2 separate regions of the Homo sapiens genome follow, and region 1 is linked to region 2. The links come from fine-mapping of genetic effects on gene expression. A gene starts in region 2. The other region holds a variant in brackets. All regions are shown on one strand. Distances are from middle to middle. Region 1 has its middle 90 kb from the start of LINC03140. Region 2 holds the start of JADE1 (jade family PHD finger 1).

Region 1 (15,375 bases), 150 kb before region 2:
TTCCTCAGAAATAATGTTCCTCACAATACACCTAAAGAAACCTTGATCTAGCCCAACATCCTTATTCTGGCAGGTGAAGAAATGGAGGCTCAGACCAGTTGATTTTTTCAAGGTCACAGAGAAAGAGCTCTTGTTGCCCAGGCTGGAATGCAGTGGAGCGACCTCGGCTTACCGCAACCCTTGCCTCCCGGGTTCAAGTGATTCTCCTGCCTCAGCTTCCCGAGTAGCTGGAATTACAGGCATGCACCACCATACCCAGCTAGTTTTTTGTATTTTTAGTAGAGATGGGGTTTCACTACTAAACCCCATCAGGGTTGGTCAGGCTGGTCTCAATCTCCTGATCTCGTGATCCACCCGCCTCGGCCTCCCAAAGTGCTGGGATTACAGGCGTGAGCCACCGCGCCTGGCCCCTGAAAATGTTTCTTATAAAGATCATGCGACTTGAAATATTTAACATCATTTTAACCAACAAAAGCCCCATATTTTCTCCCATTTACAGACGTTCTACATATAGGATCTGTTTTGCAAACATGACGCTGTTGTTTATAACCATGGAGACATATGTTGTTTGCGCTTAATATTGTACTGTATGTGAGAAAATGAAATGCCTTCTATATGTGATGCTAATTCAAATTTTATCTTGTTATATGGACTAAATATTACATGGAATTGTGATAGAATCGCCCTGTCTTAAGTACACTGTTTATTCTAAGAGTTGTGATAGGCTAAGGGGGGAAAAACCCCAAGTTTTATTGCTTTACAAGCCAACCACGTTAAGAGCATACATCTGCTTTAAAACTATACAATTTCTTTTCTAGTGCCCAAGTAGATTTGCTCTGGGCTCAAGCAGTTATTAAACCCCGGCGCTGTCTCTGATAGCTGCAGTTTGCATTCCAAGCATGAGCACAGTGCTGGGGCAGGACAGGCTCGGCTCAGTCAACAGATGTCAACTCCCCTTGTAAACGCAGCTGCTCTGTCTCACAACTGGCAAAGAGAACTGAAGGAGTTCCCTTCCCTTTATGGCTTTTATCTCTCTGGCTAATAGGGGATGATGCTTAAAGGAGGTAATTCTTGAGCAATAAATCCAGACTGCAAATAAAACAAGGGAAGAGGGAGGAAAATCACAATGTAAGAAGTTTCCTTTGTTTACTACGCTTAATTGGGATTCCACACATGAATGAAGAAGAGAAGACGGTCTCTCCCAGGGTGACTGGGAAAGGGAAAAAAAGGTGGGTTCCTCTGTCTGTGTGCTTTTTAATGTGCAAATTAGTCAGAGCCTTTTCCAACCCAGGAAAGCTTACAGTTCTGAGTACAGGGTCAGTGTCTTAGTAGTGCTCAGTAAATATTAATTGAAGGGGATGATGGCTTTAAGGGGTGAGCTTCATTCCATTCTCTCAGGACAGCCCTCCAGCCAAGTACCTAAAGGTCACTCTGCCTCTTGCCTCAAGCATTATCTCAATGACCCCTTTAGTTAATGAGAAAGCTCTCAGTTCTCTTGTTTGCCTTCCAACTCATCTTCAGTTCTTGCCAATTTATTCCGCCTTCTGCACTTAGAGGCCGCTGAGAACAAAGCAGGGATGAATGGCAACAACAGCTGCTGCAGCCCCACTTCTTGGGCACAGTCCTTCACCATGGAGCTCTCCAAACTACCCTCCTTGAGCTGGCATTGAAGAGGAGGGGCTTGAAGGAATAGGCTGGAGAACTGGGTAGGGGCTGCAGCAAGGAACATAGATTGTGTTTTTGTTTCCAGCAACTCACTCCCCATTCTGACAGATTACACAGACTTGTGTGACTGGTGAAGGGTATCCAGGTTCTTGGCATTTTGAACAAAGAATTGGACAAAAATGCACAAACAAAGCAACAAAAGAGAAGCACAGATTTATTGAAATGAAAGTACACTCCACAGAGTGGGAGCAGGCTCGAGCAAGCAGCTCAAGAGCTCTGGTTACAGAATTTTCTGGGATTTAAATACCCTCTAGAGGTTTTTCATTGGTTATTTGGTGTACATCCTGTGTAAATGAAGTAGTGGCCCACGATCAGCCCAATTGGTTAAGGAAAACAATCAATCAGAGGCTGAAGTTAAGTTACAAAGTTGCAACCTATGCAAACGTCTGATTGGTTGTGGAAAGTGACCAATCAGAGGCTGAAATGAAGTTATAGAGTTATACTCCTATGCAAACGAAGACTTGGCCCAAGATCAGTCTGATTGGTTGTGAGGGGGGACCAATCAGAGGTACTTTCAATTTTTCATCTACCATGTGGAAAAGCGGGGAAGGGGGTTGCAAAGGCAGTAGCCTCTCATCCTTTTGTTACTTGGGTGTGGAAAGTCAGGCTTTTCCTTTTGATTTAGTTCTAGGAAGTCAGGGTAAATCAGCCTTAGGTTCCCTGCCTCCAGACCCTATTCTCCTTCTCTTGGAGTACCTCCTATGGGAGAGTCTACAATTTCTGCACCTTTGATGTCAGGCTTGGGCACGTGAGTGACTAGGCCTTGTGGGTGACCTTGACTATGCCTCATCTGTGCCAAATCTTTAAGAGTGATTGTATTCCACCAGCTCTCTTGCTGTTTTCTCTCTGTCATAGGAATGGCATACCCCAAAATGGACTGCTCTTTCAGCCTGGATCTGGAATGAAGAAGACATAAAGCCAGTTTTGATGCACCTGTCTTCTTTATTCCAGATCCAGGATAAGTATTTGTAGTTGTAACTGAGATTTTGGGGTTGCTTGTTACAGTAGCAGAGCTGACTAATGCATACCCTGCAAGTGCAGTGGGAAAAAGAAGTTTGTGACCTGAGTATCCCACCAATACTTGTCTTTACCCATCAGGCTGCCAAACTGTGATGAATAATAAGAGCTCCTGCAGCTCTTGTACCTGCTGTTTGACACTGCCTCAACAGTCTCCTTGACTAAATAAAGCGAGTATATTGTATAATATGGCATTCCAACTGCCAACACAGCAAGCAAGGGGCTTCTAGAAAGGGAATCCCCTCTAAGGTTGGAGAAATCTTAGCTTTCTCCAAGATTCTCATGTAAAACATTGTATCATTCACTTCTCTGAGCAGAAATCCAGATAAACCTAGTGCCTTCTCCAACCTTGGAGGTACTAAGCTGCCTTCTAAGAGGAGCAAAGGGACCTGTGGTAGAGTGTCATGATGATATGGGTAACTTTGACTCATTTATACTTTGCTTTTTATCTATGGTCTTCCTCCAAAGCATATGCTTAGTGTAAATTGTAACTAAATACTGATTTAGACTAATGTCCGAGTGGAAAATAACTATCTAAAAATAAAATATTCATGAATTTGAGTTCAATTATAGCTTTATGTTGTTGTTATTAGGGACTATCCTTTGTTGGTTTAAGTCAGCTCTGTGCCTTTATGAAGATGGTTATATGAAAATATTGAATTACACAGCTTCCTTTAGGAACTCTTTGACTGTAAAATTTTCACACACTTGTGAAATTTAAGCAGATTACATTATACCAATAGATTTTTGATAGCTATCTTAAAATAATGAGTTCAAACCAAGAGACGATTATAACTGACAACAGAAATGTAACTGTGAACTTTAAAAATATGCTAATGCTTGTCCCTATATAGAAATATTAGCTTAAGTTCTTTCTGTGACATATGTGTGTTTATAATCTATTTTTGTAATAGGGTAAAAAAATCAACTCCAAAAATATCACTCTCCCCTTTGACATTTATCAGTGATAGCAATAATGCCAGCGAGCATTAGTACACTGAAGAAGTACAGAGATGCCTCCTAAGGCATATCTTTAGGTTTTATCTTTAAATGATCTCCTTATCCCTGACTTAATTTGAATGATGTTTTAGATCAAATTCATATATAATGAATGGTGACTATGTTGATCTGGTCCTGCTCGTTTTTACAGGTTTAGGGTCTTACAGAATACATAAAGCTCATAAGGGGGACTTAAAATGATTTGGGGAGACAGACAGACAGATAGATATATGGATAGATGGATAGGTGTATGAAAAACCAGATGAAAGAATGGATAGATGGGTTGCTTCTCTACTCCAAAAATAAAATAAGAAAAGAAAAATATTACGTAGTCATTTCTGTACTGATACTAATTTAATCTATTTCAGAAAGAAGGTCATATTTTCTTTCAATTTAAATAATGCAAATGCAAATAAATATAAATTAAATTGTGATAACGATTGTTATCATGGCAAAAAATTAAAATGCCTATCTCGAGGCATCTTTTGCCTTTAAGTGCTACTTTTCTCTTACTCTTGGAGGCTCAGTGGTGATTAATGATATTCTTCACACTCTCAAAGGCTTTCTTTAGGAACCCTTTCCCAGTGACCCCACAAGAAGACAAGGCTTCACCAGCTACGGAGGACATATGGTTTAAAGATCCTCAATTACTCTAAGGTAGTCACAGGCTGTGAACAAAATTTCTGTCATATTCCTGTAATGCCTTTTATAGGGAGAAGCAGGGAAATCCAGATTAGAATATAGTTTTCCTGGTGAGATTTGATGAGGTTTATAATTGTCTGAGAGTTTGGTTCCTATAGCTCCTAGACCCCTAAGGTTTTAATTATCAAATATTTGATTCAACCTTGAAAATAAGAACCTTTGAAAGAAAAGCAACACTTCCCTCCTTTGAAAAGCCTATATTGACCTTGCACCTCTATCTAGCAGCTGCCCTAGTACTGTAGCAGTTAACCCTAGTCACCACCATCCTTCTTGAACTTGACTCCTCCCCTAGCTTGTATGACTTTACTCTCTTTTTGTTCACCTCTCAAACCACTCCTTCTCAGAGTCCACTGCTGGGTCCCATCCATTGTCCACCCTTAAACGTTGACTTTCTTCAGCCCTCCTCAATTCTCACTCTGTACCCACTCCCCTGGTTTTAATTCTCACTGCTACACTGGTAACTCCTGACTCTATATATCTAGTCTTGATCTCGCCTCAGCTCCAGACCCATAGATTCGAGTGACTACAGGGTATCTACATTGGAGTGCCCATATGTAAACTCCCACTGTGCATCCTGTTTCTTGGGTATTAGACACTTTCCACTGTACTGTATGCCTGGAATTTGAAAGTCATCCTCTCTGAGCTCAATTACCAGTAGACATTAAACATCTCAGCGCTTATCTTATGGCAGCCATTGTGCTCGACTGGGAGATACAGAAATGAAAAAGACATTTTCTACCATGAAGAAACTTTTACTGTAAGGAGAGAAGAGGAAAAGCAAACAAAAAAAGGCAAACAAAGGCAGAGCAGGAGTGATATTGAAGAAGGAAAACCCTGTAAGTAGAAGGAGGAGAAGAGAGTAATCCTGAGTGAGGATTGAAGAAGAGACAGCAGCAAACTGGGCCTTGAAAGATGAATAGAAACTTCCTCCATAAAAATGGGGTAGTGGGAAGGGAGATAGTCCAAAAGGCAGGGAAAAGATGACCAGAAAAGCAGGGCGTGATTGCACAGCTCATTTCATTCATTCATTCCCCTAATTGGAGCTCAAAAACTGTCCTAAGCTCAGAGGAAAGGGAAAAATATGATGTGCCAACAGCAGTGTGTGTGTGCTGTGTAGTGGTGGGGTGTGTGTGCGCGTGTGTGTGTTGGGGAAGTCAAGGGGCATATGGTTGAAGAAACTAGAAAAGTAAGTTGGGGCCAGCCCTGAAAGCAGATGTTTGTTTCATTCACTTGAATGAAATGTACTTTGTACTTCCTGTGAGAAGGATAGGCCACTAAATTTCAGGGCTGATATTCACTTATGTATTTACAAAATAATACAAGTTGACATCAAGTTAAAAATATACTACCACGTGACTTCCTGCCATACACCAGAGAAATTCATAGCGGTAAAGTAAGTATTTAGTGAGCCAACATGTTGTGGATCTTTTTCCAAGCCTCATTGCTTTCCTGGCCAGCTCTGGACAAAAAGGCAAGTCAGGTTAAGAAGAAGAAAAATAGAACAGGGAGAAGGAAAAGGGGAAGGGGGAGAAGGGAGAAGGAGGGGAGAAGGGAGAAGGAGGGGAGAAGGGGGAAGAGAAGGGGGAAGAAGAGGAGTGGGGCAGGAAAAGGAGGAAGAGAGAGCCAAAACAAGAACAAAAAGAACAAGAACAAGAAGACCAGGCTGGGTACGGTGGCTCATGCCTGTAATCCCAGCACTTTAGGAGGCCGAGGCGGGCGGATCACCTGAGGCCAGGAGTTTGAGACCAGTCTGACCAACATGGAGAAACCCCATCTCCAAAATACAAAAATTAGCTAGGCATGGTGGTGCGCACCTGTAATTGCAGCTACTGGATGGGGGGTGGGGAGCGGGGGTGGTAGTGAGCACTGAGGCAGGAGAATCACCTGAACCTGGGAGATGGAGGCTGCACTGAGCCGAGATCGTGCCACTGCACTCCCGCCTGGGCAACAGAGCGAGACTCCTTCTCAAAAAAATAAATAAATAAAAAGGACAAGAACACCAACAACACTATTGATCATGTAGAATGCTCCTGGCCGGGCGCGGTGACTCATGCCTGTAATCCCAGCACTTTGGTAGGTTGCAGTGAGCCAAGACCATGCCACTGCACTCCAGCCTGGCGACAGAGCGAGACTCTGTCTCAAAAGACAAAAAAAAAAAAAAAAAAAAAAAAGAGAATGCTCCCATATTGAGACATTCTTAGCATGAAAAGGAATGCGGATTGAAAAAACTGGTTTTAATGGGCCCTATGTACATTGAAGTCTCACAACAGCTTATAGAGACAACATGGAAGTATGAAAACTTTTTTAAACCCAGACTGTGTTACTAGTTCTGAAACAGAAGCTATGTTTTACAAAGATAGATGATATATAATGTCTAAAAGGATCAGGCTTAAGAAGGGAACAGGCTAATGCAGACAGTGGTTGGCTTCCATGAGGAATGGGAAAACCATGGTGATAGAGCTCTGTGTTTGGTTAGTGTCATCTGAAGAGCAAGAAGAAAATGAACCAGAATTTGGGCTTCCAGGAGTTGCTGCTCAAGGGGATCAGAGCCACATCTGTGTGAAATGGCAGCTGGTGGCAAAGCAAAGTCATTTTCCTTTATTATGATAAGTAGTTGTGTAACACACAGGAGTGTACACCTTCCATCCATAGTATTAGAATTGGTTTATCTGGGTCGGGTGTGGTGGCTTACACCTGTAATCCCAGCACTTTGGAGGGCCATGGCAGGAGGATCGCTGGAGATCAGACGTTTGAAACTAGCCTGGGGCACATAGTGAGACCTTGTCTCTACTAAAAATAAAAAATATATATATAGCCAGGTGTGGTGGTGCGTGCCTGTAGTCCCAACTACTCAAGAGGCTGAGCCAGGAAGATTGCTTGAGCTCAGGAGGTGAAGCCTGCAGTCAGCCATGATCGTGCCACTGTACTCCAGCCTAGGTGACAGAGTGAGACCCTGTCTCAAAAAAAAGAAAAAAAAAAAGAATTGGTTTATCTGAACAACCTGTTAATGTGTTTGAATTGAAAAAGAAATTGTACTTATAGGCTCTATAAATGAATAAACTTGCACCTCAAAGGGTTCGTGGGGATTTATAAGGAAGGCTTGGGAATTCAAGAAAGAAACAGTGATATTAACATGGTGTACTTAAAGGATATGAAAACCAAGGGAAGTTGCCAGATTCAAGAGGAACTACTCTGTGTTCTATCCAAG[C/T]TGAACATTCCATTTTTACAAGGACTCCTTTGTTGTCATGTTTATACACAGACTAATAAATGCTTGACCTTTTTTAGTGATGAAGGAACAGTCTGTGCCTCAGGAGCATATTATTTCAAGAAGCACAAATGAAGAGAAAGTCCAAACCCTCTGGGACAGATGGACTAAATATTTTGGTATTGGAACCACATGGGGAAAGGCAGCAGTTGGGAAACAGAAACAGAGGCCTGATAAGGGAACCTGGAAACAGCATCAATCTTCTCAGAAGTTTCCAAGGACTCCAGATATGCAGGGAACTGGACACCAAGCTCACGTGAGGAAGGAATCAAAGTGAATGAAACATTGATCTTGAAGTTAGTAAAATGCAGTAAGTGAGGAAAATATCTGTGTTCTTGTGAAAGAGTTGATTTCTCAACTTTGGGGTTCTGTATAAAAATGACTAATATTCATCAAGCATTGGCTTTCTACTTAGAACAGAGTGTTTATATGAATTAACTTATGTAATCATCACATCAGTCTTATGATGCAGGCACTGTTCTTACTGCACCCACCTTTTTTCTTATATAGACAGAGAGGTAAGTAACCTCCCAGAGTCACAGAATGTTAGAGTGACTTTGACCGCGTTTATGTAGTCTCATGCCTGAGCTCACACTCTTGTGCCTCCCAGGGACTTTAGCAATCACCTAACTCTGATTTGCTTCCCTCCCCTCCTTACCCCAGCTTTCTCCCTCACTCCCTATTCTAAACAATTAAGAGTGAACTCAAGAGCATCCAAGGACCTGTGTAGTTGCCTTGAAATACCCCAAATATTTGTGTGTCTTAGGAATGACAAATCCCTGGTAATCATTACAATAATGATGTGGTATTATTATGAAGTATTTCATTAGTACTTATTCAATGGTGTTTCTAACATTGTATGGTTAAGTATCACCTCAAGAGTGAAGAATAATAATTGATGATAATGATCACGGGAAGCTGATATTTTAACTTTTGGTTCAAAAAGCCTTTACTTTGGAGAACCAGAGACCAATGATGAAATGTGATGTTCCAATTACAGGGCTGAAACCACAGGTATCTGAAATGCAGTGGAAAAAAACAATGAGAATGTGAGGGCCCTAGGTAACATGAAGCGATTGGTCTCGCTGTTGGGCATAATGAACTCCTACCTGCACTCAGTGCCACATGATGCAGAGTTTATGGTGCCTCTGAGACTGTTCGTAAAGAGAGGCGTTGTGTGGGACTGATAACAGCTCTGCTCAAGGACAGCAATGATGTCTGCCACATCCTTGGAGTTGGGAATTACCTGGCCTCGTTACCTCCTCCCCACTCCTCCCCACCCCAGGAATCTGGATGCTCAAGGCTTGACTATTTCCTCCATTCTCCCCTCACTCAAGCCCCGTGTTCAGAAGCAATCAGATAAACTCATTCATTCTGAAAAGTTTAATGTGTGACTCTTCCAAGGACAGTTTGTTTTAACAGAAAATCAAGTTTCAGAACAAATGTCCAACAGGTCCCAAATTTAACTCACTATACTCAAGAGTGTGAAAATCAAAAAAGTAAATTTTTGTTTCCCATGAAAGATCTAATCTTAACTCTCTGGCCTTCCCACACTGGGTGCTATGAAGAAAAACTCCTAAAATTGCTATTTAAAGCCATCTCAGTCTTTTCTATCTTAAGATAGTCTTAATTGGAGCAATCATCTAATCACTTACAATTTACCTCTTTTAGTTTTCTGTTGTTGCAAAAAAAAAACAAAAACAAAAACAAAAAAGCACACATACTTAGTGGCTTGAAACAACATGAATTTATTATCTTATCCTTCTATAGTTCAGAAGTCCAAAATGGGTCTCTTTAGGCTAAAATCAGATGTCAGCAGGGCTATGTCTCTTTCTGGAGGCTCTAGGGGATAATCCATTTCTGTGCACTGTCCAGATTCCAGAGGCCCCTCATATTCCTTGGTTTATGGTCCTTTCCTGCATCTTCAAAACCAGCAACAGTGTGTAGAGTTCTCACATCTCTCCTCTCTGAACGGACTCTTCCACATTTAAGGACTCTTGTGATTATACTGAGTCTACCCGGACAATCCAGGTTAGTCTCCTTATTTTAAAGTCAGCTGATTAGCAATCTTAACTCCATCAATTACCTTTTTTTTTTTTTTTTTTTTTTGAGACAGGGTCTCTTTGTATCACCCAGGCTGGAGTACAGTGGTACCTGGCTAATTTTTTGTAGAGACAGGGTTTCACCATGTTGCCCAGGCTGATCCTAAACTCCTGGGCTTAAGAGATCCTCCCACTTCAGCCTCCCACAGTGGGATTACAGGCAAGAGTCACTGTGCTTGGCTTTCCATCAGCAATTTTAATTGCCCTTTATCCCGTATGGTAATTTTTCACAGGTTATAGGTATTAGGATGTGGACATATTTGGAGGTCATGACTCTGCCTACCACACCAGCTTTTCTAACTTCTTTCTTCCCCTCCTGCTGCTCCTTCTCAAAATAGTGCATGGGTACATGAAGGTAGAGGAGAGAGGGCCTCAGACTCAACGGTTGTTTGTTCTCTGGATCCTTGCTGGTTTCTACTACTGCGATGGGCTTATTTCTGGTTGGGCTGGATCCCACTGATGAAATCTGTGACAGATGAATTTTTGTTTATTATAATTACTTTACGCTACATAACTAACCACCTCAAAACTTAGTGGGTTAAACGATCATTTTGACAATGAAAACAATTACATCTCATGATTTTGTGGATTGACTGGGCTCTGCTGGGCAAATTTTCTGTTCCACAAGATGGAGTGGATGTCACTCATATGGCTGTATTCAGCTGGGAGCTTGCCTGGGGCTAGAACATCCAAGCTGGACCCCTCCAGGGTCTTTTTCCTCACATCCTCTTACCATTCAGGAGTGTAACCTGTTTCTTCACATCACAGTAACTGGCTTCCAAGAGAACAAAAGTAAAATCTGCCAGGCTATGTCCTCAAACCAACATAACATCACTTCTGCCACAATCTTTTGGTCAAAACAAGGTGCAGTGTCAGCCAGATTCAAGGGGAAGGAAAACAGACTCCTTGTCTTCATACATCTAGGTAGAAGAGGAAATGGTAGCAGCTGTATTTGCGGGCAAACTGCCAGATAACCTGTTTCAATCTTAGCTTGGTCAGGCCTGAGGCACTGACTTTGTGACACCTGAGTGTCAGTCACTTCCCTAGCCTAGGTGGCGTGCCCTGCAGCCCTATGCCCAAGTCTCTTTCCTTCTCTCATGGCAAACTCAGGCCAGCCTCATTATCTACGTTCTGCAGCCCCAGAACTGGCAGGAACTCCTGGGCACTTTGGGTGTTCAGGCTGCTGAAGGAAGCTTAGGAATGCCAACTTAGTCTTCTCCAGTTGGAGACTGTGCTGTGCCACCATTTTTATTCTGCTCATGAGGCTTCTTGGTCCAGTGGAGCCACCAAGCGTGGTGGTCTCCTCCAGCAGTTACAGTGGGAGATACAGCTTGCCTGCTAATGAGCTACAGGAATCATGGATTTCCTGGTTAGAAGAGTGGAGTATAAACTCTCTCCGCTTTTGGATTTCTCCTCAACCCATCTCATTGCTCTTTCCTCCAGGATTTTGTCCCAGAAGGTCAGATCAGAACATCCATGCTAACTGCTTAATTTTCATAGTTTTCCGAGACAAAAGGACCTTTTTCCCCTGCCCCTTTCTACCTGATAGAGGCTTTTCTCAGGTTATAACTCCTTTTTAAAAGGTAGCATTTGTCTGGTCCATTAAGCTGCTGGGGATGATAATGGGAGACGAGGGGGATTACAAATAAAATAGTTTAATGTTTTCAAAATATACCATCCTCATAAAGAAACAAATCTCTAATTAGGACATTTAAATATCAGTCGTTCAGGCTGGTGGACTGAAGGCTCTGTCTCGGGTCTCACTGCACTAGGGCTGCAGCAGCCACTTCTCTTTGAAGATGGCTATTGCCAGTTAAGACCTTCCAGGAAGCCAAGGCATGAAAGGAAGCACAGAGCCCTGCCATGTGCCCCACCTTCATGTTCTGCTCACCACCAAGCACACCCATGCCCACCCGCACACTCTGGAAGTCCCTATCACCTGGGCCTTCCAGAAACCAGTCACCTCTCCTGCTCATGGTTCCTGGGTCTTCCCTCCCTTTCAGACAACAGAGGTCCCAGCTCTATTCATGCTGTCCAATAAGCTGGGATCAAGCATATGTTGTCAGGACCTGAAAGTAGAGATACAACTTACCTGTGAGTTACATAAGGGATACTTTCCCAATGATTCTACCCCTTTACCTTTGTTAGAGTGGTTGAAAAACACGTGATTTTAGATTTGCAGTGTATTCAACTATGGTTATACCCATTGTACAGTGATATGTATTTCTCATGACAATCCTGCTTCATTTGGAAATAATAAGTCAAAATGACTGATGTGAAATATCATTTGCCACAGCACATTTGTCATTCTAGGGAGTTCTAGACTTTATGACATTAAACACTAAGAAAAATCTGGGTGCAGTGGCTCACGCCTGTAATCCCAGCACTTTGGAAGGCTGAGGTGGATGAATCACCTGAGGTAAGGAGTTTGAGACCAGCCTGGCCAACACAGTGAAACCCTGTCTCTACTAAAAATACAAAAATTAACCAGGCGTGGTCGTGGGCACCTGTAATCACAGCTACTCGAGAGGCTGAGGCAGGAGAATCTCTTGAACTCGGAAGACGGAGGTTGCAGTGAGCCGAGATCGTGCCATTGCACTCCAGCCTGGGTGACAAGAGTGAAACTCCACTTCAAAAAAAAAAAAAAAAAAAAAAGAGCTGGAAAGAAAAGAAAAGAAAACACTAAAAAAAAAAAAAAAAAGAAGAAGAAGAATAAGACAAGTCCACAGAGCTTAGACCTAGAAAATACACTGATGTTATAAAATTTCTGGACTGTTAGAACTGACCCTACATGCTTTATACAAAACTTATACAGCCTTACTTCCAACAAGATGGTTTTGAGTTAGAAGGCTCAAGAATCATATTTTATGACACTTCAGTTCTCCTGGGGCCTGCAGACAAGTTGGGGATACCTAGATGTGTAGTGCATGCAGTTTTCACACCCAGGTGGGATAAGAGGACCAGAAGCTAGTAATAACTGGATCCACATCAAACTCAGAATGGAAACCTAGGAGAGAGCCAGAACCCAAGGTGAGAGTCCAGAGAATTTTGTCCACCAGCACATATCTGCTTTGAATTCTACTTAGCCAAGAAGAGGCAACATAACACTCTGGCAAGAATTCTGGACCAGGAGTCAGAGTACCTGGGTTTGTTCCAAGCCTTGGTTCTGACACTGACTACTCATGTGAGTATGGGTGACTCGATATCTTCCAAGCATCATTCTCCTTGGGAGAATGAGGGAGGTTGGACTGCGGGTACTTCATGGTTAAAGTCCTCCTCTAATAATATGCCCACAATAACTATACACTAGTGAGAAGGAATAGAAGAGATGAGGTCATACTAAATCCTGTTCACACTAGTTGAGATCTCTGAGGTGTTGAGATCTCTGAGGTGCCAAATGAGAAATAGTCACAAGAGTCCATTGAGATCCAAATATCTGCTTTCTTGCTGAAAAATGCTGAAAGGGAGAATAGGTCTATGGCTGAAATCAAGGCCTTTCTCCTTTGCCTGAAGTCGATTTCTTGAGACCCATAGAAAGAGCCACATTGGATCTGCCAAGCACACACTCAGGCAGCTGAATGGAGGTAGATATTCTGCTTCTCACTGTGTGACCCACCAGACCATATGGGATACCACATGGAAGCTGGAGCTAAGGGGCAGCTTGGCTTGTAGGCAGGCAGCCCTAAAGAGAAAGCCCAGAGGAGCTGAGCTATTTCAGTACTTTTCTATATCACCAATCAGATTAGTCTCTCCTTATCTTGTGGTGTCTTAGCCTGCTCAGGCTGCTATAACAAAATACCATTAAATTGGGTTGCTTATAAACAACGGAAATTCATTTCACACTGTTCTGGAGGCTGGGAAGTCCAAGATCAAGGCACTAGCAGACTCGGTGTTTGGTAAAGGCCCGTTTGCTGGTCTACAGATGGTGACTTCTGGCTGAGCCATCACATGGTGGAAGGGGTGAAAAAAAGAAGTCCCTTGAGCCTATTCTAATAAGAGCATTAATCTCATTCATGTGGGCTTTGCCCTCATGACCTAATCACCTTCCCAAAGGTCCCATCTCCTAATATCATTGCCTTAGGGTCAGGACTTTAACAGGGTTTAGAGTTTTAGACTCGTTTGGACCATAGCATTTGGGAAAAAATGAAGAAGGGGATTATAAGAAAGGGCATAGGTAAACTTTACAATAATTCTGGAAGGCAGAAATTCTCATTTTGGAAGCCAAAACTCTCCAATGTTGGAGGTAAGAAAAAATGGTTTTCCTGACAAGTGCTTCTTCCATTCTTGAATTCTAGGGATGTGTAAAGGAACAGAGTACATGACAAGCAGGAAGCATGGGATAGAAAATGGAAGTTGGGAAATGTGCTGTCAATACCAGCCCCAAACTAATTAAAGAGCAGTTTCTAGATTTCCCAGCCCTCCCCACGCTCATATACTTGGTGAGAAGTGGAAAGTTCATAAAAATTATTGAAAAAGTTTTGGCTGGGCATGGTGGCTCATGCCTGTAATCCCAGCACTTTTAGAGGCCGAGGCGGGCTGATCACTTGAGGTCAGAAGTTCGAGACCAGCCTGGCCAACATGGCAAGACCTGGTCTCTACTAAAGATGCAAAAATTAGCCAGGCGTGGTGGTGTGTGCCTGTAGTCCCAGCTACTCTGGAGTCTGAGGCAGGATAATCACTTGAACCCAGGAGGTGGAGGTTGCAGTGAGCTGAGATTGCACCACTGCACTCTGGCTTGGGCAACAGAGTGAGACTTCGTCTCAAAAAATAAATAAATAAATAAAATAAAAATAAACAATTAATAATTGGGCCGGGTGCGGTGGCTAGCGCCTGTAATCCCAGTACTTTGGGAGGCCGCAGCAGGCAGATCACGAGATCGGGAGATCGAGACCATCCTGGCTAACACAGTGAAACCCCATCTCTACTAAAAACACAAAAAAAATTAGCCTGGCGTCGTGGCGGACACCTGTAGTCCCAGCTACTCGGGAGGCTGAGGCAGGAGAATGGCTTGAACCCAGGAGGTGGAGCTTGCAGTGAGAGGAGATCCTACTACTGCACTCCAGGCTGGGCGACTGAGCAGGACTCTGTCTCAAAAAATAAATAAATAAATAGATAAATAAATAAATGAATAAATATTATTGGAAAAGTTTTGTTATACAGGGCCTTAGTTAAAAGCAACCAATATCCAAAGGATAATATCCCAAATGAGACAGATTGTGAAGAAGGGAGAAAATGAAAATGGTCAATATTTATTAGTATCTTCCCTGTGTTAGGAACTAAACTGGGTGCTTTACATACATGAATTAACGCTTGCAATGAGTTAACCCTTGCAGTGACATTAACCCTAATATAATGCTTGCAGTGAGTTCCTTATAGAGATAAATACTAAAGCTCAGAGAGGTTAAGAAAATTTCAAAGATCATGTAGTTACCATGAGACAGAAACAGGCCTAGAACTTAAGTCTTACACCAAAGTCAGTACTTTTTAAAAAATAATCCATGTTGCATCTAGAAATACTTTTATCCAATGTAAAAATCCCATATAGTACAGGGCTGGTATTTGGAG
Region 2 (15,375 bases):
AGGGACCTGAGAGAGAAGGGCTAATCTTGAGTTTGAGACCAGCATCTTGAGTTTCGGTGTCTCAGGGACTTGGGAGGGGAATCTGGGCACAAGTGGAGGGAAGGTCAGCTTCCCACAGGAAAGAAGAGCAAGGATGGGCCTGTAAGGAAGACTGTCTGCAAGTTTGGTGCCAGAAGCTGAAGCTGAAGGCATTCTTGTTCATTGGCTTGTTACCTCCGTGATAGTGACGTAGGTTAGAAGCTCCAGTGAAAGTGCTGAGGCAGGTGGCAGGAGAATGCAGACTGAACTGACTAGGAAAACAGAGTGATTTCAGGGCATTGTGGAGGTGGGGGATAATGAGTGTATTCTGGAACCAATCAGCACAGATCTGTGACTTTCTCCAGTAGCTTAGAAGTCCAAATTCAGCAATGAAGAAGGCTAATATGTTTGAATTATTCTAGGACTGTCTTCAAGGAAACCATTGCAGCTTTGCAGCTTCCTTTGCCCATTCTTTAAATGCTTCTTTTTAGTTTCTAGCCTAGGCTCTGTTTTCTTCTCACTTTATGGAAACGTCCTATTGATCTCATCCACTCTGGTGGCCTCAGTTAATCTCTCTATGCTGATGGCTCCTAATCCAATATTTGCAACCCAGCCTTTCTCTCCAGTACCAGATTTCTTCTGGTTCCCATCTGCCTTCTGGGGCATCTTCAATTGGGTGTCTCCTGGGCACCTCAAATTGAACTCATCATATTCCCACTGTCTCCGAGAATAAAAGTAAACACTAGAAAGACAGGGGTGGATTTGTGTCTACCATTATAGATCCTGAACTCAGTGCTCAATGAGCAACTGTTGGTTGAGTAAAAAAAGAAATCCACTCAGTTCTCTAAGCCACAGACTTTGGAGTCATCTTTTACTCCAACTTCTCCTTCATCTCTGACATCTAACCCATCAAGTCTTATCTACATTTAAATATGTTTCGTGGCAGAAACACACACACTCCCTCCGACATGCACACACACACAAAAGTGAATTTTCAAGCAGTTTTAACACAGAAACTTAGCTGCTTTACCTCCTTTTTTTTGCTTCATTAACATTAGAACTAAACCAGTGGGAGAGTACCTCCCTCCCTGCTTCCTCTCCCGCCTCCCCACCAAGCCAGCTCTGCCTTAGAGAAAAGTGAACCTGGTTCTTCATTTGCTAATGATTTGGGCTCAGGTTATAATGGGCCATTAAGGTGAATTGTGGAAGAAAGTGGGGAAAAATGAAGCTTTCAGGTGGAGGGATAAAGAAACTATGGGGTGGTGACCCCAGGATGCTAGGGAGTCCTGGGATCTGATCCAGGCCTTTTGGAAGAAGAGGGGTTGGAGCAGGACCCCTATGAGGGGCCCGAGTCCTCCCCACGCACCGTCAGGGAGGCCTCCTCTGCTCAGCCATGCTGCTTGAGCCTCAGCTCTGGGTGCTGGGAGAGGACTTGGATCCCCCTGTACCAGGACTTCCACCTACTCACTGCCCATCAGGAGCTTTGCTTGTTTCCCCTACATGTTGCTTTCTGCCCCAAACACTGCCTCTGCCTTGTGGACACCCTCCTGACATGCCCCAGGGACTCTGTAAACCCCAGAGACATCCCCCAGGTACCCCTTAGAGCAGCAGCTCCAGAACTGGGGGAGCTGGAGGCCTCTGAAGAGCTGAGACAGTGTTAACGATGCCCTCATCACAGGGTGGTTTGTTTGCCTATCTGCACTCCACAATCAACAATGATAGTTCAGCCTGCCTTCAACTGTCATCTAGCCTCCTAACTAGGCTTACTCTCTCCAGTCTACAAACCCGCCGCCCTCCCAACCCATCCAGTTCCCTACCCTGAAGCCAAAGGGCTTGTAAAAAGTCAACATTTGGCCCCCATCCTCCTCCTCCTCACCTGGCTGATGCCTTCGGGTTTCAGCTTTAGTGTCACTTATTTTTAGACTGACGTCTTCTCTGACCACCCTCTTCCCACCAGGCAGATCAGGTGTATGCTATATGCCTCCCCCAAACCCTGGAGTTTATTGAAATCACTTTTTAATATTTTCTACTGGCCCGTGGACAAAGAATAGGCCTACTTGCCTGTTTTACCTTGTCTCCAGTGCCTAGCCAGCCCTGTGCCTGGGACATACTAATTGCTTAACACATTTGTCTGAGGAATGAAGAAACATTAGACAAGAAAGTTCAGAAAACAGTTGGTTAGAGGTGGTAGGTGGGAGTGAGACCTACATAAGTGTTTTTCTGATTGAGTGTGGATCAGAACTACCAGGAAGGGTTGTTAAAACACAGATTGCCGGATCCCACTTTCTGTTTCAGTAGGTCTGGGGTGGGGCTGGAAATAATGCATTTCTGACAAGTTCTCAGGTGCTGCTGCTGCTGATTAGAGACCTTATGAGTTACATCCGTTCTGTTGTTGGTAAGAAAAGGCTGGAGGGGTAGATCAGAGGACTTTCAGATAAAAAGAAGGGTAAGGTGGGATGTATAGACTTTGGAAATCTGAAAGGTAGTGGTCAAAATGGGAGATACTTGAGTTTGATAATAAAGATGGCAGAAATTTCCAGTAGTTGACAAGGTCCAGGGAGAGTAGCTATGAGAATGAATAGCCAAAGTAACCTGTGGAGGAAGGTATAATAACACAGAGGGGGTCAAAGACCTGAAATGCACAAACATTGCATAAAAGTATTTAATACCCAAATGGAAAAATTGAAAGATGTAAGTGAAAAGGAAGGATGTAAAATGGAATGTGTCGCATCATTCCAATTTTAGGAAAAATGCATAGAAAAAAGACCAAAAAATGGACAATGTTTATAATAGTTATCCATATGGTTGAGTTTTATTACTTCATTTTTCTAAATTTTCAAAATTTCATTATCATGTATTCCTTTCATGATTAGGGAAGAGCTTTACTTATTTTGAACCTCCTCAGCTTTGGTCATTTCCATCTGGTGGAATTATCTCCTGTTATCCCATTTCATACTTACTTCTCTTTGACATTTTTACTTTCACTAAAAGTATGGAAATCAACAAAATTAAAACAACCAAAATGAAAAGCAAGCAAAGGAAAACAAAAAGAAGGGGAAGAAAGAATCTCAAGAAGAAAGTAATTTAGTTGGTACTGACACCAACAAGAAACAAATATTCCATATATTTGGAGGTTGTAATGACCTGCCTGGAGGAGCTAAAATGTTGTTAAGGACTGGTGACTTCACCAACAGGTCAGACAAGGAATTCTAGTCCTAATCTCTTACCCTTCATCTCCTGTGTCACGGAGTTCAGATAGGTGTTGACTGTGGCTCTCAACTTTTCTTGTTCAGAATTATATGTACCATACATTAGGACAAGGGGTGTTAAAAAACAAAAAAGAATTATATGTCCTTATTCCTCTTTGAACTACATCCCTCCCTCATACAATATTACTCAACAAAGTTAATAAAAAGTTATTATTATTATTTTTTTGAGATGGAGTTTCGCTCTCATTGCCCAGGCTGCAGTGCAATGGTGCAATCTCGGCTCACCGCAGCCTCCGCCTCCTGGGTCAAGCGATTTTCCTGCCTCAGCTTCCCAAGTAGCCGGGATTACAGGCATGCGCCACCACGCCTGGGTAATTTCTTTTTTTTTTTTCTTTTTTTTTTGAGATGGAGTCTCGGTCTGTCACCCAGGCTGGAGTAGAGCGGCAAGATCTCAGCTCACTGCAAACTCCGCCTCCCGGGTTCAAGCAATTCTTCTGCCTCAGCTTACCAAGTAGCTGGGATGACAGGTATGCACCACCACGCCCAGCTAATTTTTGTATTTTTAGTAGAGACGGGGTTTCACCATGTTGGCCAGGCTGGTCTTGAACGCTTGACCTTGTGATCCGCCTGCCTTGGCCTCCCAAAGTGCTGGGATTACAGGCGTGAGCCACCGCGCCCAGCGAATTTTTATATTTAGTAGAGATGGGTTTTCACTATATTGATCAGGCTGGTCTCAAACTCCTGACCTCAAGTGATCCACCCGCCTCAGCCTCCCAAAGTGCTGGGAATACAGGTGTGAGCCACCACGCCTGGTTGAAAAATAAAAAGTTATTTTTTATCATTTAGTTATTAGAATTATTTTTAAAAACAACAATCTAAGCCCTCTTTAGTAACAAGACATTTTTGGCACAAAATTCCAAAAAAATTAAAGTACATGCAAATAAACTTTTAGGATACAACCCATTTTATCCAAGATTGCCCTTTTACAGTAAAAAAAAAAAAAATTCTTCTCTCTGGGTGCAGGCGCAGTGGCTCACGCCTATTATCCCAGCACTTTGGGAGAGCGAGGAGGGCGGATCGCTTGAGCTCAGGAGTTTGAGACCAGTCTGGGAAACACGGTGAAATCCTGTCTCTACAAAAAATATGAAAAATTAGTCAGGTGTGGTGGTTCATGCCTGTGTTCCCAGCTACTTTGGAGGCTGAGGTGGGGGAATTGCTTGAGGCCTGGAGGTGGAGGCTGCACTGAGCCATGTTGGGACCACTGAACTCCAGCCTGGGTGGCAGAGTGAGACCCTGATCTTGAAAAAAAAAAAAATTATCTCGTTGGAATGTATACCAACTGACAGTGGTATTTGCCAGTAAGAATTTCTTGCTCATTTCCCTAAAGGAATGAGATAATACAGGACTTTAGTGTATGCATCCCTTCATTTCAAATATGAACAATTCTGAATCTCTTATCAAGGCCTTATAATTCTTTACCTACAGAGAAGTAGATGAAATGACTAAGTAAACATTCAGAGGTTTAATCAAGTCTGGTTTCAAAATCAGGAATATGAATATAAATATCCAAATTTCTATTTCATAAAAACCCATTATTATGGAAGAAAATAATTAAACTGTTTATGACTACAGCAGAATGTACAGGATATATAGAATTGTAATTATCACCACGAACAGGAAAGACAAGAATCTTGATATTTCTATTACACTGAGTACCTTGTAGCTATTTTGTTGAATGTCTTTTCATCTCTGATAATAAGGTGTGAATTAAAAAGAACTATTCCAGAGACTAGGAAATGATGATCCGGAATGATTTGGCAAGGTAAGACAGTAAGTGACAGAGTGGAATCAGAAACTCGCTTTCCTAATTGCCAGCTTAGTACTTCTTATTCTAGGCTGTATTATCTGTGCTGCCGCAAGGCAAACCATATCATTGCCTTTCCCATTTTAGAAATAGGTTGTATAGGAGTTTCCTTTGTGGTCTGATGGCAAGAGACACCTATTATTTAAGAAATGCCAACTGCTGATCATTGATGACAAAATATTTTTACATGTTCCTTATGGATTCAAGTTGTCCGCCATTTCTTCAAATAATCATCACGTTTCTAAGTTTGGTAAGAAAATCAGAAATGACTGAATGTTAAAGAGAAAGGGGCCTTAGGCATTATTTTTCCTATCATCTCAGTGGGGAAACTAAAGCCCAAAGAGTCATATTGGGAGTTGGTGGGAGTCTCCTGACTTCTTGTCCAGGGCTATTTATAGCACATAGCACTGTTTCAGTGGATGAGTATTCTGAAGCCACGGCATAATTGAGACTCTGTACATGGCACCTTCACTCATGTTCAATGTGTCAGTGTGGGGAGTTTGTGTGCCATTTTATCCCTTTATTTTTGTCATCCATTTTATTCAATACTTTCGTTGGTGCCTGATGTTTTTGATAGAAAAAGCAAATAAAAGAGTAAGCAGCAAATGTGAGTTAAAAAAATTTTTTTTTTGAGACAGAGTCTCGCTCTGTCGCCCAGGCTACAGTGCAGTGGCGTGATCTCGGCACACTGCAAGCTCCTCCTGCCGGGTTCACGCCATTCTCCTGCCTCAGCCTCCCCAGCAGCTGGGACTACAGGCGCCCGCCACCACACCCGGCTAATTTTTTGTATTTTTAGTAGAGACGGGGTTTCACCGTGTTAGCCAGGATGGTCTGGATCTCCTGACCTCGTGATCCGCCCGCCTCTGCCTCCCAAAGTGCTGGGATTACAGGCATGAGCCACCGCGCCCGGTCGACAAAAATTTTCTTAACATGAATGCGTGAAGTAAGGCTGTTTGGAATTTAGAAAAGTTGCAATTTTTGATGGAGAGAAAACCAAGAAGGAGTTGAGTGATGGCCGAGGGAGTGGACAACCTCCTACTGCCAGGGCCTCTACTCCTGAACTGTTATGAGGTTGCCTGATTCCTCTTAACAACCCTTCAGGTTAGGGGCCAGCTGTTAACTTAATTTTATTACCAGGGAAGAAACTGAGGCTCAGATAAAGTTCTTTTATCCCACAGGCACACAAACTGCTAACTGATAGAGCCAGATCCAGCCATGTCTGGCTACAAAGCCTGTGTACTTTAACTTCTACAGAGAGTATGTGCGAGGTGAACCAGTAAAAATAACAATAACAAGTGCAATACTAAGAATAGTAATAATGATAGTTAACACAGTGCTTTACATGTGTGATCGCTTTGAACAGGATTAAGTGAACACATGAATAGGACTGGCAGGGAGTCTTTCTACTCTTCATTAGCGAAACAGGAGAGGACATATACAGTACTTAGGATTTCCACTGGCTTACTTTGTTTTCTGAAAAATAACTGAAAGGCTCAATTAGTTTTGTTTTGTCGCATTTATCAGATTATAACGTTCTGGATGTGGGTCTGGATGTGGGTAGTTGGGCTGGTGTGGGATTACATGAAATCAAACCTGATATATTCAGAAAGATTCTTCCGGTGGACACATATGCCTTTTGGGTTCGATATTCAATTTTGTAATTAGTGATCACTGTTCCTATTTATTTATTTATTTATTTGAGACGGAGTTTCGCTCTTATTGCCCAGGCTGGACCACAATGGCGCATTATCGGCTCATCACAACCTCCACCTCCCGGGTTCAAGCGATTCTCCTGCCTCAGCCTCCCCAGTAGCTGGGGTTACAGGCATGTACCACCATGCCCGGCTAATTTTGTATTTTTTAGTAGAGACAGGGTTTATCCATGTTGGTCAGGCTGGTCTTGAACTCCCGACCTCAGGTGATCCGCCCACCTAGGCCTCCCAAAGTGCTGGGATTACAGGCGTGAGCCACCGCGCCCGGCCTGAATGGGAGTTTTTAATCCGTACTTTTTTCTTATTGAAGTTGAATGTCATATACCCCTCTATTTCCCTAGATGAATCCATGAAAGAAGTATGTTGCCCTCTATATGAAAAAGCAAGCTTGTCTTCTGCAGAAAATCAGTAACCACTCCTTTTTACACATAAATACCCCCAAATGAATCTCCGATGACTGATCTGATACTAGTCTGCAATTCTAGTTTTAGCATTAGGCTCACTCCTCATATTTGGGAGAAGATGTCCAATTCTGTAGTAATGTGTAACATAAAGTGGTGTCAATTTATAAATAATATCTTCTAATGAATTAATGCTCATTTGCAATGATCACTTCCATACAAATTTAGGTAAAGATGTTATTCAGAATTGGATTCTCTCTATTTAAAAATGTCATCCTAATGTGCAACTCCCTAAAACTGTTACTACAAACAACTATTTTGCCACTCAGCCTAAAAATAAAACCTTTCACCCAAATGACACATCTTAATAGCCATATTTTAATCTACGTAATTTTAAACTATTCTGAAAGAATCCATTTCTAGATGTCAGACAAGAGTTGAAACTGGGACAGCAGTTTGAAGGGGCTAATTTAAAAACCCACTTGCTTGGAGACACCTCAAGAATTTCTAGGCTCACAAGGTGGGTGAAGTAAGGAAAGAGACTAAGAGCTGAACAGTGCCGTTCTTTGCGAGCCCCCACTGGCGCAGGCTGAGCCGGCTGCGGCTAGGGCTGCGAAGAGTTAACGAGGGACCGAGCCCCAGCGCCGCGGGCTCCCCGCATGCTCCCTCCGCCCTCCCGTCCCCACCCTCTCGTTTTGGCAAGGGATTAAAGTGCTCCCCCCTGTGGCAGCAGTGACCCAGAAATGAGTTTGATTCACATAGTCCTTCCTCCATAACAAGCCAAACGCCAGACCGAGAGTGCCTCCGTGCGCGAGTGCCCGGTGTGTGCGCGCCGGCGAGAGCAGGGGCCCGCCCGGCTCCCCGCCCGCCGCGGCCCGAACTCATGCAGCTCCGAGCGAGCGAGCGGCGCCCAGCCCAGCGCCTCGGCCGAACCCCTCCGCAGCAGGTACGCGCGCGGGCCGCGGGGGGCGCGCGGGGTGGGCGCGCCGCGCGTGTGTCCGCGCGTGTCCGCGTGTGGGTCCGTGTGCGCGTCCCGGTCCCGCGGCGGCGACGGCGGCGGCGGCGGCGGCGGCTGCAGGACGAGCCGAGAGGCTCAGCCATATTTGATGGTTTTGTTGCTTTGCTCGGGAGTTCTCGGGAGTAATTTAATGCCGAAGGTCGCTGCCTAGTGGAAATAATATAATACGTCATTAATATGGCGCCAAAAGATTGGGTTCTCGATCTGTAGCGAGGAGGGAGGGAGGCAGCCGCTGAGCGCAGCGTTACTATCCCACCAGTAACTTGGGCATTGCCGGGGCGGGGGCCGGAGGAGGAGGAGAGGATGATTTTTGGATCCTGAGAATTGATCTATGTTGGATCAGTAAGTTTTATTATGATTTTTTTTTTCAAATTTGGGGGGCTGAAGACTTAGAGCTATTTCTTCTTTTGGATTTGCGAAGAACATGCGGTTTTCAGGTGAATCATCAATTAAACGCGTTTAGGAGCAGAAGCCCAGTTTAAGTTGGCTTTAGTTTATAGGTTTTTTTTTTTTTTTTTTTTTTTTAGAAAGCCAAAGTGCATTAGGCTGCATGAAAGTGGAAAGCATAGTAGCAACTTGGTAGACAGATGGCAATGGCAGAACGCAGGTTCGCGTACATATATGAATCCAGAGTGTGTGAGACCGTGTGTGTGGTGGGACTGTATTTGTCCAAACATAGGTGTGCGTAGGTACATCTGTGTGTGGTGGCCGCAGCCCTGGCTCTTGTCACCGCGTCACCACATGTCCAAAATATTCATTGCATCAATTCAAGGGCAGTGAGAGGGGGGTGGGGGTGGGGGTGGAGGGACAGTTTGGCAATTAGATTCTTCCGAACTGGGCTTCCAGTGATCAGATCTTTTACTTACAGCGCGACTGCTTGTAAAGTGTAAAACCCCTTAATCGATGAAATGGGGTAGGAGTTGGCGTTGGTAGAGCAAAGTACCGATTAATCGTGAACTTAAAGGGGATTGCAAATTGCAACCTTTGGCACCATCTGCAAATTGTGGGGGTGGGGTCTCTTGGTCTCCTTGCTTCCTTAAATGAACGTGTAGTGTGTACCCCGGGACTGCAAGTTGCAGAGCCCTTCAGTGCACGTGTCTTGTGCCTGTGAGTCTGTGTTTGCGAGTTGGGGGCTGTTGTTCGGTAGCCAGCAGGCTTTCCGGGTTGCTCGGCATTGGCTTGCAAATGCGGGAGAGGGATGGAATGTGGAATGTTGACCGGGGAACCGAATCCTGTCGGAACGGTCCCATTTGCTGGAGAAATTCGATCCCTTCCACCTCCTTCCCGCTCCCCCCCGCCCGCCTTCGGGCAGGAGGCGGGGCTGAGGACGCGGCTGCTGCTCAAAGTGGCGGAGCGCGGCGGCGGGAGGCAGGTGCACGGCACCCGCCAGTGGGGGTGCCTCAACTTCCGCGGGCGTTTAAATAGCAGCCTCTCTCCCCTCCCACCGGTAATAGGTGACCTGGCGGCCGAGGGCGGCGGGGGAGGGAACCGGGGGAGACTCGGGAGCGAGCCTCCGCGGCACGTGGGCAGGTGCTGGGTGGCCCCGGGGCCAACTTTTGTAGCCCGCCTCTGGTGTTTGAGGAGAGGCGGCCCAGTGTGGAAATGGGGGCGGGCGGCGGCCGAGGCGCTGCTTCTCCGCTGCGGCCGGAGCGTCACCTAACGGTCCCAGCTGCGCCGCCCGGGCCGGGGTGGGGGGTTGCGGGGGCGGGGACGCCCGGCCCGCCGCGCCCGCCCCGCACAAAGCCCGCGGCGCGGGGGTGGCCGCTGCGCCCCCGCCCCGGGAACGGCCCGAAGCCCGACGCGGTCCCCGCGCCGGTTCCGGCGGGCGGCCGCAGGCGTTTGTTTGTTGGTTCCGCGCCGCCTTCCTCGCCGGATGGCTTCCTGTGACAGAGGTGATACACAGTTTCCAGAACTGTCTGGGGGCGGGAGCGGGAGCGGGAGCCGAGCCCGCTCGGAGCTCCTCGCCGCCGCTGCCGCTCCCATCTTAAAACCGTTTCTCGCCGGCGCGCCCGCCCCAGCCCGAAGGTGCCGCCCCGGAGGGACTCGGGGAGGGGGACGGCGCGGCCGTTTCCAGCGGCGCAAGTGGCTTCTGGACGCGAGGGAGCGTTTGATTTGCAACTGGGGCCGAGCGGATTGGTGCAGCTGGCGGCGGCGGGGCGGGAGGAGCTGCCGCGGCGGGGGGTGGCCACTTTCAAATGGAGAGGGCGGCGGCGGCGGGGACGCCGCTGCGGAGGGAGCGGGGCTTGGTTGCGCCACGAGAAGGTGTCATCACTGCACCGGGGCTAATTCCGGCGGAGGTGCCGGGAGTTACTTTCCCCTCCTCCCGCGCTGTTGTTTCTGTCGCCTCGGGAGGAGGAGGAGGAGGAGGATTGGGAGAGAGGGAGGGGTCGGCGCCGCGCGGAACCGCGGCCCTGCGCATTCCCCGGCGGGCGGCGGGAGCCGCGCGGAGCGTTCGCCGCTGCGGGGCGGCGGCCGAGCTCCCCCACAACCCCGGGGTGCCCCCCTTGCTGGGATCCTTAGCCTTCTCACGTCCCCTCTCACTCCGCCACCCTCCCACTAGAGCTCCTTATTCTCGAGTCCTCAACCCCGGCTTGGCGCGTCCCGGGTCTCCCCTCGCCCCAGGATTCCTCCCGCGCCAGGCTCCGCTGGCCCCAGGTTTCCCACCCCAAGCGGGTGGGGGCGGCCGCAGTCCCGGCGCCGGTGAATGCTGAGAGCAAACAAAAAAGCGGGCGATTTAAACATGCCTTCGAAACCCGTTAGGAATGCGTCGTCATCCGGAGACCGTTTAAAAGGAGCTTTAGCTTGCCTTCTAGTAACGAGAGGGCTGGCGCCCTGCCTTACTTCGGCAGGGGCGAGGGGCTGTCGCCCTCTATTTGCCCCGGCCAAGAGGGAATTTAAATTTTCTTTTGTAAAATGACAGCTGCAGTGAATGACCTGAGACAGCTACGTTTTTAGGAAAGTAGGAGAGGATCTGAGGTTTCCATTAATGGGAATGCTTAGGGGGTTCTTTCCCAAAGGTTTTTTATTAGGTGAACTATTTTTCCTTTTTATAATACCCGCCATGAAGGCTAGCTCTCTTGCTACTTGTAGCTCAAGGCTAATACCTTTCAAAGCTAATGAACTAGTTTTAAGATAGAGGGAAATTATTTCCCTGAAAGCTGATTTAGGTAGTGACTCCCCAGTGGTTACAGATTTTATAGTAAGTTGCATTTTGATCATATCACAACTGATCAAGATTTAATCACAGGTGGAGAAAGGTGGAGAAAGGAAGCATTCAATATGTCCATACTTGCATTGAGTCAACACTTTTGATGTAATAATTTGTTGTAGGTGGGCAACATACGTGGGGGGAGTTAAATGGGATGTTTTGTGAGTAACACTCTTAGCAAGTACATGCAACCCAGAATTTTTATTGTCCTTTTATCCCAAAGATCTTAGTCTCATTTACTTACGGTCACTTTTTTTTTTTTTTTTTTTTGTTCCTTGAGACAGAGTCTTTCGCTCTGTCACCCAGGCTGGAGTGCAGTGGCATGATCTTAGCTCACTGCAACCTCCGCCTCCTGGGTTCAAGCGATTCTCCTGCCTCAGCCCCCTGAGTAGCTGGGACTACAGGCGCGTGCCACCACGGCTGGCTAATTTTTTTTTGTATTTTTAGTAGAGACGGGGTTTCACCATATTAGCCAGGCTGGTCTCGAACTCCTGACCTCGTGATCCGCCCGCCCCGGCCTCTCAAAGTGCTGGGATTACAGGCGTGAGCCACCACGCCCAGCCTGCTTACGGTCACTTGTAAATCAGATGACTTTCTGCTTGGTATTTTGCTGTCTTCTTCAAAGTTTGGATACTTCTATAAGTGTCTTTTACTTGGCATTGTCATTTTAATGTGTAGAATAAATATAATTTTAAGCTGTTTAAGTGTTAGGTTTCCTGCTATTTCCTTTGGTCCCTATTTAGCAGAGATAATGGGAGTGTCTGAAAGTAAGGTAGAACTTGAACTTGATTCCACCTTTAAGAGTACAGACTGCTTACTAGTAAAAGTTGGGTTGGCTGCACATATATTTTAGCTTTAACAAAGGTAGATATGTGTTCATTTAAAAGAAAAAAAAAAAACCCACCTTCTTAGTTCTCCCCGCTTCACTTGACTGGTTTTCTGCCTGTAAACCAGTGCTGTGCTTATATTAGTTATCCAGGTTGAAAGAGTAGCTATACAGGGACAGCAATGAAAAGTATGTGTGTCTGGGTGAAACTAGAGGGAGAAAACCTATTGGAGTTTGAGGAAATGTGTTTTGTTGCTTAGCCTAGGGGGTTGGAGAAGAAAGATGACCTAAAAAACAAACTTGGAGGACTAGGTGAGAGTAAAAGCAGATTTCCATTGCGTCTTACGTATAGTAGGCACGTGACCGATATTAATTTTTGACTTTAGCTGTTAAAAAGTTATTACACAAGTAGTGTTACATGTACGTTTTTGAAAATTAGAAAATACAAGGAAACAAATATAAAAACAAATTGCTACCATCCATAGATGACTACTGTATTACTTTTCAGATAATTTTCTATGCATGTGCATGTGTGTTTTAATAAAAATGAGATACATGAATATACCATCTGTAAGGATTTTTTCTTTTTTTTTTTTTTTTGAGATGAAGTTTTGCTCATGTTGCCCAGGCTGGAGTGCAATGGTGGGATCTCACTGCAACCTATGCCTCCCAGGTTCAAGCGATTCTCCTGCCTCAGCCTCCTGAGTAGCTGGGATTACAGGCTCCCGCCACCACGCCCAGCTAATTTTTTGTATTTTTAGTAGAGACGGGTTTTCACCATGTTTGTCAGGCTGGTCTTGAACTCCTGACCTCAGGTGATCCACCTGCCTCGGCCTCCCAAAGTGCTGGGATTACAGGCGTGAGCCACCGCACCCAGCTCTGAGGACCTTTTTTTTTTCTGTCAGCTAGCTTGGTTAGTTTTAATATAATCTATTACTGTAACATGTCCAGATTTCCCCATTTAGCCCCAGACTGTAATAGAGAAGCTTTGTCTAAACCACTGCCTAATAAAGGACCATTTATTGCATTTGGTTGTTTCCCTTAAGTCGATTTTAATCTTAAGTAACTTTTTTTTTTTTTTTTTGAGACGGAGGCTTGCTCTGTCACCCAGGCTGGAGTGCAGGGGTGCGATCTCGGCTCCCTGTAAGCTCCGCCTCCCTGTAAGCTCCGCCTCCCTGTAAGCTCCGCCTCCCTGTAAGCTCCGCCTCGCGGGTTCACGCCATTCTCCTGCCTCAGCCTCCAGAGTAGCTGGGACTACAGGCACCCGCCACCATGCCCAGCTAATTTTTTTGTATTTTTATTAAGACGGGGTTTCACCGTGTTAGCCAGGATGGTCTCGATCTCCTGACCTCGTGATCCGCCCGCCTCAGCCTCCCAAAGTTCTGGGGTTACAGGCGTGAGCCACCGTGCCCGGCAATCTTAAGTAACTTTTTGACAGAATATCTGACACTGAGGAGGCAAGCCTTTGGAAATAAAGTTGCCTGGATTTTAAAAAAGCAGGAAATCCAAATGGTATTTATTGTAATTTGGAAATCTTAAATTTGGAGATCATCTGCTTGCTTGATGTTACTTTCCACAGACTTGTTGGAAAAAGATTTATCAGATGTTTGTGTTTCAGTACTGAGGTGGTTGGAACAGTAAACATCAAGATATCAAATACAGATTACATCCTGTCTCTTTAGGGTTTGGTCAGAGAAGAGGAGGCATAGGAATCTGTCACAGTTCTGCTTGCTGCTTTACTTTCTTGTTTGTGAAGCTCTTCCCTGTCATTTAGTATTATGGGGCACCTGTTACAGCATTACAGTTAATGGTCTGTCAGAATTTGCATTATAAAACTGGTTTTCCTGTGAGGTTTATAAAACAGTTATAGAGGGAAATATGACATATTAGCGAACACACCTTGCTTTTTATTTGGGTTGGCATTAAGAGGTTTAGCTTGATTGTTAAAACGGTGAAAGTTACGTCACGTTTAAACTTATTTCCTCCCTTGTACAAGCCTTTAGAGAATTGGCACCATATTCAACAATACTTTTTTTTTTTTTTTAAACATGAAGGGTGGGTTTGCTTGGAGTTTCTGGTTTCTTAGAAGGTATCAGCAATCTTAAATTAGGAAAGTATTTTAATTCCTGAGACAGGTAAGTTGTTTCCTTAAAAGTCTTAAATCTGTTTTCTCCGTTTTCAAGTCCTTGCAGCACTTTATATGACCATGTATTTACAATCTGGACAATTCTTTTTATGTTTGTGGAATGTAATATCTCAGAAGTTGAGATTTAGTTGAGTCTATTGAGTCTATTGTCCTTTGCCTAGTGTATTTCTCATATGAAAACTTTGGTTTGTGATCATGAGGGTGTATGCATTATTTTTATTTTTTCTTTTTTTGCAGTTCATAGCCCTGATGAAGCAAGTTACTCTGCTCTCCTAATAAATGCAAGAAAATGACCTTGGAGGGCCTTTTTAATTACACATAGAAGTGACAATTTGTAAGTTTAAGGTTGGGTGTCATGGAATAGAATGGAAGAAATTGATGCTAAAAACTTTGGCTATGATGGGGCCTTTCCTAGCCCAGGACTTGAATGATTATTAAGGATCCTTTCCTCACCTCAAAGCACAAACATAAAGATTACCAGACTTGGACTGGAAAGCCTTTATCACTAGGAAAGGGGCCATGTATTTTTACGTTTAATCCCTTAGACCCATAGTGTACGATGTGCACACAGTAAATGTTCAGTGACCAAATTTTGGTTACTCTAAAACGAATTCAGTATTTACTTTTTGCCTTTAGTTCTTCAGGTAGAGGTAGGACATAATGTGATAGAGAGCAGTTGAAGAAAGTTAATTTTTAAAACCTTAGATTTTTTTGGGCTTACTTGTTGAGGGAAGTAAACTACATTTTCTCTCTCTTTTTTTTTTTTTGAGACAAGTTCTTGCTCTGTCACCCAGGGTGGAGTGCAGTGGTGGGATCTCGGCTCACTGCAGTGGGTTCAAGTGAGTCAGCCTCCGGAGTAGCTGGGATCACAGGCGCATGCCGCCGTGTCTGTCTAATTTTTGTATTTTTAGTAGAGACGGGGTTTTACCATGTTGGCCAGGCTGGTCTCAAACTCCTGACCTCAAGTGACCCA

What was found. PIP is the estimated chance that this variant, and not a neighbour inherited with it, causes the effect.
Region 1: its variant is fine-mapped to the expression of JADE1 in thyroid (GTEx, PIP above 0.99).

The regions. Positions count from the first base shown.
Region 1 is chr4:128,652,748-128,668,122 of GRCh38, forward strand. No RefSeq gene overlaps it. Among named protein-coding and RNA genes, the nearest start is that of LINC03140, 90 kb to the left of the region's middle. RefSeq lists an enhancer at 1-314. The variant C/T (reference allele first, on the strand shown) is at 7,652.
Region 2 is chr4:128,801,728-128,817,102 of GRCh38, forward strand. It overlaps JADE1 (jade family PHD finger 1), which reads left to right and starts at 7,973. Exons shown (of 11, transcript NM_199320.4): 1 at 7,973-8,150. RefSeq lists enhancers at 898-1,817, 8,376-8,485, 11,229-11,810, 11,811-12,392 and silencers at 7,796-8,275, 8,786-8,905, 9,536-9,815, 9,936-10,035, 10,216-10,785.